Linked DNA regions of Homo sapiens. The protein of the gene in region 3 interacts with the protein of the main gene of each other region in a pairwise test. Each region holds a gene or a part of one and is shown on either strand. Other genes may lie near its edges.

The links.
Region 1: the proteins of VDAC1 (region 3) and KLHL40 interact in a two-hybrid assay, tested with the Homo sapiens proteins (one large-scale study listed by BioGRID).
Region 2: the proteins of VDAC1 (region 3) and CDK1 interact in binary tests that used the Homo sapiens proteins (3 or more experiments, as listed by UniProt).

What each region holds. Positions count from the first base shown.
Region 1 is NC_000003.12:42,688,537-42,691,025, forward strand, and holds part of KLHL40 (kelch-like protein 40), read left to right. Parts: intron 1-73; coding exon 74-181; intron 182-332; coding exon 333-518; intron 519-2,322; coding exon 2,323-2,469; intron 2,470-2,489. UniProt on the Homo sapiens protein: Substrate-specific adapter of a BCR (BTB-CUL3-RBX1) E3 ubiquitin ligase complex that acts as a key regulator of skeletal muscle development.
Region 2 is NC_000010.11:60,784,978-60,788,477, reverse strand, and holds part of CDK1 (cyclin-dependent kinase 1), read right to left. Parts: intron 2,815-3,500; coding exon 2,691-2,814; coding exon of another isoform or gene 2,679-2,690; exon of another isoform or gene 1,409-2,678; intron 419-1,408; coding exon 248-418; intron 1-247. UniProt on the Homo sapiens protein: Plays a key role in the control of the eukaryotic cell cycle by modulating the centrosome cycle as well as mitotic onset; promotes G2-M transition via association with multiple interphase cyclins.
Region 3 is NC_000005.10:133,987,844-133,991,578, forward strand, and holds part of VDAC1 (non-selective voltage-gated ion channel VDAC1), read right to left. Parts: intron 3,312-3,735; coding exon 3,159-3,311; intron 3,065-3,158; coding exon 3,012-3,064; intron 1,401-3,011; coding exon of another isoform or gene 1,292-1,400; exon of another isoform or gene 75-1,291; intron 1-74. UniProt on the Homo sapiens protein: Non-selective voltage-gated ion channel that mediates the transport of anions and cations through the mitochondrion outer membrane and plasma membrane.

The DNA.
Region 1 (2,489 bases), on a different chromosome or scaffold from region 3:
ATGGGTGCAGAGACAGGGACTGAGCCGAGCCTGGATGGGTGCCCTCCCCCACCCCCACTCCCGTCTCCTCCAGGTCATTCAAATGGGGTGAATCGGACCCGCTGCCTTACGTGGTGTATGGCCACACAGTGCTCTCCCACATGGACCTTGTCTACGTAATTGGCGGCAAAGGCAGTGACAGGTGAGGCTGGGCCTGGAGTGAGTCTGTGGAGCAGAGGTAGAATCTCCCAGAGGCTGTCAGGGGTTTGTCCTGGCTGCCCCGGCAGGTGATTGCAGGGAGGCGTGGCTGGGCTCCTGCTTCTCTCCACCCATCCCCACCCTCCACCCCACAGGAAGTGCCTGAACAAGATGTGCGTCTATGACCCCAAGAAGTTTGAGTGGAAGGAGCTGGCACCCATGCAGACCGCCCGCTCACTCTTTGGGGCCACTGTCCATGATGGCCGCATTATCGTGGCAGCTGGGGTCACCGACACAGGGCTGACCAGTTCTGCCGAAGTGTACAGCATCACAGACAACAAGTATGAAAGCTTGTCCCTTCCGCCAAGGACAACTGCATGGCTTTGGGCTTCTGTCAGCCCCAGCAGGAGCTGCAGTCCCTGTCTTGGGTCTCCAGTGTTGACTTTGGACATCAGTATAGAAATAGGCTTTCTCTCCTGATCAGCAGTGAGGTGGGGAGGCGGGGCAAGGGTTATGGCCAGCCTGGTCTGCAGGAGGGGGCTCCCAGGGCTGGGGGAGGGGATGCCAGGTTCCTCATTCAGGGACTCATACCAGGCAATGGCCTGGTGCAAGGGATATAGCAGTGAACAAGACAGAAGCTGCCCTGCCTGGGACATCAGAAAAGAGAAAACTGAACTGAGAGACAGTTGGACTCAGCTCGCAAAAGGGGTGAGGGTGGTGGGAGGAGGTTGCCCCAGACTAAGGAAAGGTGGTGCTGAGGCAGTTTGGAGAAAAAACTCAAGGCCTATAGGAGGGAAGGTGTTGCTCCAGCTGGGTGGAGGTGGGTGGGTGATGGAGTTGGGATGGCGGTGCTGGGGCTGGAGCGGGGGCCAGCAGGAGAGGGACTGTATCTCATCTGTGTTCTACTAAAGTACTTCATGGCAACTGATATAGAGAGCAGATTAGGGATTTCCCAGGGGTCAGGAAGGTCAGGGGTGATAAAGGCCTGGAGCTGGGGGCACAGCGGAGATGGGGTTGAGGGGATGCACCGGACAAAGACAGGCCAGGGCTTCTTACACTGTGATGGGCATGCAAATCTCCTGGGGATCGCCTTAAAGTGCAGATTCTGATTCTCGGTATGCGGAGGGCTGAAAGCCTGTAAGTCTGCATTTCTAACGCACCCCCAGGAGATGCTGACGCTGCTGGGCCATGAACCACACTTTGAGTAGCAAGAGTCTAGGAGGTGGGAGAAACAGGGCTTAGCTATTGATTGGATGTGGGGGTGAGAGGGGGAGAAGTACATGCTTCTGAGTGAGGGTGGGAGGCCATTTACTGGATAATCATTGGGATTGGGTAGGGAAAGTGAGGGTCCAGTTAGGACATGTGGACTTGAAGTACCTGGGGGTGTCCAAAAGGACCCCACCCGGGAGAGAGAGGGCTGAGCTGGAGGGAGAGATCTGGGGGTCAGTAGCACACGGAGGGGCCAAGCTCCCTCAGGAGAGAGAGTGTAAATGGGAGGAGCTGAGGTCCAAGCCCTGATGGTGGAGGCAGCTGCATTATCCAGGAAGGAGGCCACGAAGGTGAGGCCGAAGAGATGGGTGAGGAAAGTCACGTCAGCAGGGCTGTGTGCTGTAGGACCTCAGTGCGTGTGCAGTGACTGTGGACCTCAGGAAGGTCAGTTTTGGAGGATGGGACTAAGGCCCAAGGCAGGAGCCAGGGTAGCGAAGATACATTGAGAACAACTGGGCTGTGAAGGGAGAAGAAGGATAGAGCAGGTGTGCAAGGTGGGTGGGGCTGCAGGGGCCGCTGAGGGGCAAAAGGACTGCGTCCAGGGCAAGGCTGGGGGCCTGCTAGGGGCTGGGGTTGTGAGTTGGAGGGTGGAGTTAGTTCAGGAGAGGAGTAGGGGCAGTGGGGAGATCCATGGTGGACTTTGCTGGACAGGTTGGATAGAATGGCAAGAGGACAAGGAAAGGAAAGTGGAGGAGCAAGAGAATGGGGAAGGAAGGGAAGACCAGAGGGACAGGGAAGGGGAATGGGGTTGGGGGCATGGGTGCCTGGGACTTGGATTGCAAAGGGTTGCAGTTGGAGCTGTGGGTGCTGGGTGGCAGGGACAGTCACTGGGCTTGCCGAGGCATCCCAATGATGCACCTTCTCACACACCCCCAGGTGGGCACCCTTCGAGGCCTTCCCACAGGAGCGTAGCTCACTCAGCCTGGTCAGCCTGGTGGGTACCCTCTATGCCATTGGTGGCTTTGCCACACTGGAGACGGAGTCTGGAGAGCTGGTTCCCACAGAGCTCAATGACATCTGGAGGTGAGTCCCACCCTGGGGAG
Region 2 (3,500 bases), on a different chromosome or scaffold from region 3:
TCCTCCTGCCATGTCCCTCTAGTACCCTCTACCTTAACAACATAGCAGCTGGTAAAGAAAAAATACTTAAAGGCTTCAGTTCCATTTTCACATAGCATGCAATGAATTTGGAGCTGAGAGGCAATAAATTGATACTGCCACAGAGTAGATATCTTTTATTGAGTTATTTCTTGACTTTCACAAATACAGAAAATAATCTAGCAATCACACACATTCAAAAGCCATCAAAAACCACTATTCCACTTGCCTCATGTGTATATACTCTGATAGGTATTCCAAAAGCTCTGGCAAGGCCAAAATCAGCCAGTTTAATTGTTCCTTTGTCATCAATCAAGAGATTTTGAGGTTTTAAGTCTCTGTGAAGAACTCTTCTAGAGTGACAAAACACAATCCCCTGTAGGATTTGGTATAAATAACTCTGGAAAAAGCAAGTAAAAGTTAGAAACTTAAGCGAAGTACATGATTTTCTAAATAATCTGTTTCAAAGACAAAAAATTAGGACGCAGAGAAATAATTTAATTACTAGAGCTTTCAGGCCATTTTAGGCTAATAAGCATTTGTGGGTGGGAAGCCCATTTATATACAACATCACATTTGTATACCTAAGAAAAGAATCTTCACCTTATAGACATATCTATAGTAATGTGAACACATTTAGTCTTTAAACATTTTTGGTCCCCGATCCTTAAATTACAAATTGGTTTTCTACACAGAAGCCTCTTGATTTTTCTTCTATATACCGCTACCAACTCTATTTTGTATCTTCAATACAGTTGGCCTTTTCTATCTTTCATTTTTACATATTCATTTCCTTCTTGAAAAAATTAGATTCTAAAAGTGATGGCAAAGATATTATGATTATATATTTCAATGGATAAAATTATCATAAAATGCTGCTTAGTTCAGAGAAAAGTGCTTTACAAGACATTTGTTGCCAAAGACAATGTCATTGACATCTGAAGTAGCATGGATATTACAAAAACAAAGTACACAGAAAAATGACTTACAGTTTGAAATTGGAAAGTAATACAGATGCTCCATCTTAGAGGGACAAGTGGTGTTCAAAAAACAAAACAAAACGGATGATCCATCTGGTTAAACTCATTCTAAGCTGAAAATACCTTGTCGAAATGCATTGAACACACCTAACCTACCAAACGTAGCTAAGCGTAGCCCACCTTAATTGTGCTCAAAACACTTACATTAGCATATAGTTGGAAGTGTTGAATACCTCATTATTTATTGAATACTGTACTGAAAGTGAAAAAACAGAATGGTTGTATGGGTAAATGAAGTATGGTTTCTAGTGAATGTGCATCATTTCTGCTTCATTGTAAAACTGAAAAATTGTAAGTAAAACCATTGTTGCCTGTACATAAAACCAGTTAGAACAACTGGCTAGCCATTTGGAAAAAGATAAAGCAGAATCTGTATCCCAGTTTTTAAGTCAAAATAAATCTTAATACAGAATTTAAGACAAAAAAAGTATGTGTGGAAGACAGGACTTACTAAAACTACCAGAAAAATACTGACATGTATTATTCTAATACATTCGATCTTTGAGTGAGGAAGACTTAAGCAAGACATAAAAGCAGAAAGTCCAAAAGTCATGCAAGATTGTTAAAGAACGTATCCTAACGAAAATATAGGCGGTTTATAATAGCTAAATATGAAGTGTTAAATTGTCATGAAATATAAAATTAAAACAATCTTAATATGCCTTTTTCACATAGTTAACAGATTGATAAAACCAAGTTTTGGCAATGATGTACTAAAACAATAAGTATTACACACCATGAGTATTTAAGAGTAAATTGCTACAAGTTTTTTAGGGGGCAACCGGCAATATCTATCAAAATGTAAATAAACATCTTCAATCCATCATTCCCATTCTAAAAATTTATCCTATAAAGTTGCATACGAAGATAAATATCTATAAGGACATTCAGTGCAGTACTGTTAATAAGAGCAACAATAACCAAGTTGGAAAATAATTTAAATGTTCATCAATATGGAAGTGGTTTAATTATATCAAAAATGTAAATAGACATAGGTAGATCTACGTCTTGATAATGTTTTACACAAAAAAGGGAAAATATGTATATATACATATGCAAATAAGTCCACCTTGTGTAAAAAAAAAAATCTTTATATACATACAAAGTGAACATACATACAAGTGTAAGATTACAAATAAAACTAACAGCGCTACCTCTGCAGAGTGGTTTGGTAGAACTGGTGCAAGAATAAGACACTTTTATATACTTCAGTACTTAAAACTATACAATTTTATAATTTACCTGAAATATAATAAATGTCTACAATAAATTGACCAAAACATGTTCAAAACTGGAATAAAACACCTACAACCACCACTCTGCCCTAGGCTTTCATTACTTTGTTTTACATGTATCTGACAGCCAAAGAAAGACCAGACTACCCTAGCTTCCAACAATACCTACCAGTTCTATGTTATCTCAGGCACTAATTTTTACTTACTAGAAACACTATCTGGTAATAACATGGGTATCTCTAACCTGTATAAACTAACCATGAGGGAGAAAAATGAAATACTTTTTCTTATTCTAACACTTTTTCCAAGCATATTCCCACAAAATGCAGGGACTTCTATATATAGTCCCTTTATATCCACAGTGCATAAATATTAATAAAATTAGTTAAGCTTTTACCTTAACAAGTGAAGAATCCATGTACTGACCAGGAGGGATAGAATCCAAGTATTTCTTCAGATCCATGGAAAGAAACTCAAAGATGAGATATAACCTGGAATCCTGCATAAGCACATCCTGAAGACTGGGGAAAAAAAATATATGAGAGAAGAATCCAGCAAACATTTTTGACCTCTGTTTCACAAAATAAAACTCCTTCCATAATTTCAGTTGCTATAATAAAAACTGGGGAAGACGTAGTAGCTTCCCTAATGGAAGAGACTCAAAACTCAAATTTAAGAAAGGAATCTCAGGGCAACTATTTAAAATTAAGCCTTGTACAGGAGGTGCTTATTTATAAGGAGCCTGTATTCAAAAGAACATATCTAGGTTGGCTACTAATTGCTGAGAGCTTATTTTTTCACTGAAGTGAATTATACAAATAAATTTTAAAGTGGTATCTGACCTTAAAAGCTACTTCCAATCTCTAGCCCCAGCCAAGTACAATTAGATTTTAACTTGGACTGTTAGGAAGACAGGTCTCCAAAAACACCCAATGCAAATACTTTAAGGAAAAAAAATCTTTTTCATTTGACCTAGCTACTTTTCTTAAGACTCTAACTAAAGGGTCTTCAGGAACTAGAGCTCCCCAAGTAGGAGAGAGTTGACAAAGCTCTATGAAAACGGCTTTACTCCCATGGCCAATTTACCTTGCTATTCTAGGCCCAAATATTAATCTACATCACCCAGCTCCTCCAACTCTGTTCCTGCTTTAACAGCCTGTTCTCTTTTACATATGTGCGGCATTCTCAACTACCAAAAATAGGGTTC
Region 3 (3,735 bases):
CACCAAAAATGAGGCCTACTGATATATTCTTCCTAACATCAGGTGCAGAGAAGAATATAACACAACAACTACAGTTGCCAAAAATGCATAACCTAAATTTAATCATAAGGAAGCATCAGACAAATCCAAACTGAGGGACATCTTAACAAAATAATTGGCCACTCTTTTTCAAAAGTGTCAGAGTCAGAAAATATTCCAGATTAGAGAAGACTTAACAATTAGATGCAATTTAGGAACCTGAACTGGATCACAGATCAGAAAAAAGACGTCATTGTGACAACAGATTAATTAACTATATGATATCAACATTAACTTGCTGATTCTGATCATTATAGTTACGTAAACCATTAACATTAGGAGCTGGGTGAAGAACACAGGAGAACTCTGCATACTATTTTTGCCACATTTTTTTCTAAGTATAAAATTATTTTGAAATAAAAAGTAAATTAAAAAAAAAAGGGGGGCAGGTGCAGTGGCTCACGCCTGTAAACCCGGCACTTTGGGAGGCTGAGGTGGGCAGATCACCCAAGGTCAGGAGTTCAAGACCAGCCTGACCAACATGGAGAGACCCTGTCTCTATTAAAAATACAAAATTAGCTGGGTGTGGTGGTGCATTCCTGTAATCCCGGCTACTCGGGAGGCTGAGGCAGGAGAAACACATGAATCTGCCCAGCACTTTGGGAGGCCGAGGCAGGTGGATCACGAGGTCAGAAGTTCAAGACCAGCCTGGCCAATACGGTGAAACCCCCGTCTCCACTAAAAATACAAAAATTAGCCAGGCATGGTGGCCCGTGTCTGTAGTCCCAGCTACTTGGGAGGCTGAGGCAAAAGGATCACTTGAACCCGGGAGGAGGAGGTTGCAGTGAGCTGAGATCACACCACTGCACTCCAGCCTGGGCGACAGAGCAAGACTCCGTCCCCCTCAACCCAAAAAAAAAAAAAACCAAAAAACTTTCCTTTGTGTTTTATACTGCATGGCCTGGAGACCTCTGCAAAGCTCCCTAAGGTCATGGGAAGGAAATCACCTACAAATTCCAAAGTGTGCTATCCCAGGGCAGCAGGCAAAGTCCCAGGCAGCAAATTCAAGCATGTGGGCACATCCTCCAGCCTCTCATCCTATCCCAGGATCTTTCCAGATAACCGCTCCCTGATACCATGGCAGAGTTCCTGGGGGGAGAGTGCACAGCACTGCAAAAAGGCAGTGCTCTTGCAGGAGAAACTACAGCAGCGAAGAGGAATGAGAGTAAATCAGCCCCGTAACAATGGTCTCTTCAGATCATCTATAGCCAAGCTATAAGACGACATCTCCAGAGGATAGGAACCATGTGTGCCCAGTCACTTGTGTGCACTGCACACCCAGCACAGGTCTGCACTTGGTAGATCCTCCCTCTAATAAATATCTGTTGGAAAGGAAAAAAGGAAGAAAGAAAAAAAATGAATGGCAAAACTGAAAAATTCATAGTGCCATTTAACTACACACTTAAAGATGTTAAGTTTTATATGTATATCTTACCACAATTTTTTTTTTTTTTTGGAGACAGAGTCTCTCTCTGTAGCCCAGGCTGGAGTGCAGTGGTGCGATCTCAGCTCACTGCAACCTCTGTCTCCTGGGTTCAAGCGATTCTCATGCCTCAGCATCCCAAGTATCTGGGACTACAGGCACGCACCATCATGCCTGGCTAATTTTTGTATTTTTATTAGAGATGGGGTTTTGCCATGTTGCCCAGGCTGGTCTCAAACTCCTGACCTCAAGCAATCCACCCACCTCAGCCTCCCAAAGTGCTGGGATCACAGGCATGAGTCACTGCATCCGACTCTTTTTTTTTTTTTTCTTTTGAGATGGAGTTTCGCTCTTCTTGCCCAGGGTGCAGTGCAATGGCACCACCTTGGCTCACCACAACCTCTGCCTCCCAGGTTCAAGCGATTCTCCTGCCTCAGCCTCCCAAGTAGCTGGGATTACAGGCATGCGCCCACCAGGCGCAGCTAATTTTTATGTTTAGTAGAGACAGGGTTTCTCCACGTTGGTCAGGCTGGTCTCAAACTTCCGACCTCAGGTGATTTGCCTGCCTCAGCCTCCCAAAGTGTTGGGATTACAGGCGTGAGCCACCACGCCCGGCCCACAATTTTTAAAAACTGAAATTCAGTACATGCCCTTGACCCTAACATCACTATATAAAACATCTTCCCCAGGTTTGGAAGACCCACCAATATGAGTGGAAAAAAACAAGGGTGTATTCTAAAAGGGAATAATTCCTTCTAGGCACTTTGAAAAGCACCCAGGAATTGAGGCAGACTACCATGCTATCATGCCAAGTGATGGTCAAGAACTAACAAGCCTATTACATCTGTGGCCAGAAGGCCTGGGGAAAGTGCAGCCTCAGGAGCCACCTTGCAGTTACACCCACAGGGTCTCAGTGTCCCTAAGCAGCAGGAAGCTGGGAGAAGGACTTCCATGCCTGAAGAAATGAGGCTGGCAACAGTGACCAGTTAGGCCCTGCTTCCAAATGTCACCCACTCCCGTTTGGTCATAGCCACTTACATCACCAGCAGCCTAACTCACATGAAATGGCTATTACTGAACAGAAATCCTGCAACCTCCATGGCAGAAACTAGGAGAACACTAACAAAATGCAGAATCTTATTACAAAACACGGCTAAACACTGGTCTGAATCCTCTATTAGAAAGTGAGCTCCTTGGCGGGTAACAATCATGGCCTGGGCACCCTTAGATCTCCAGATGGGCACAGGGCCAAGCACAGGTGGCACTTAGAAATCGTTTGTTGGGTAAACACCAGTCCTGAATTAGGAAGTGCTCATTATAGCATAGTCTGTTAGTGCATAGATGTGGATACGACCCCTGGGACCAAATCAAAACCAGAGGACTTAAATCGCCAGGTCTCGGAGACCATATTTTAGGTGCTGTCAGCCCCCAAAACATTTTGTCACAAAGGGCTTCCACCACCTGCAACATCAGAGAACATCCTTGTGGAGAAAACAGATGAAACTCTTACCCAGTGTTAGGTGAGAAGGATGAATCGAAGGTCAGCTTCAGTCCACGTGCAAGCTGAACAGAAAAGAAATTTGCCACTAGATTTAGTCACAAGGCAGGCTGGCAGATGCGAATTAATAAATCCACATCTTTTCACAGCAGCCATTACCTGATCTTCCACAGTAATCTCGGTGCCTAGTGTATTGTCGGTATTCCATTTCTCTGTAAACGTCAGGCCGTACTCAGTCCATCTGTACTTGGTTTCCAGACTGCCCGTCACTTTGGTGGTCTCAGTGTTGGCTGAGCCTGAGCTTGTAAATTCCTTCAAAGGAGAGAGAAGAGTCACAGCCTGCACCATAGCACTCACTTGGCTTCACTTCACTCCTAAACACTATACTTGCCTTTCTGCAAGAGGCAAGACCCTGAATGTGGGGGGGCCAAGGCTAACTCTACAATTCAAATAGATATTTAAAGTACAGATGGGAGTAAAGGAGCCTGCTATGTAAAGAAATCTTATGGGGAATTTGTTGTCAGCAGACAGCTTCCTTCCTCCCTGTAACTCTTCAGTCTGGACAGGAAAGCATCTCCCTTCCATCCTGGCTCCAGGGCAGTACAGAGAAAAAGCACTGAGCTAAAGCTGACACAGCGGTAATTCAAACCCAAAACTTCTTTCTTCCAACAATTACTGCACACATAATTTCAAAGGGACTACTAAGATTACTTTAAAAACACTTATGTGGTTGAAT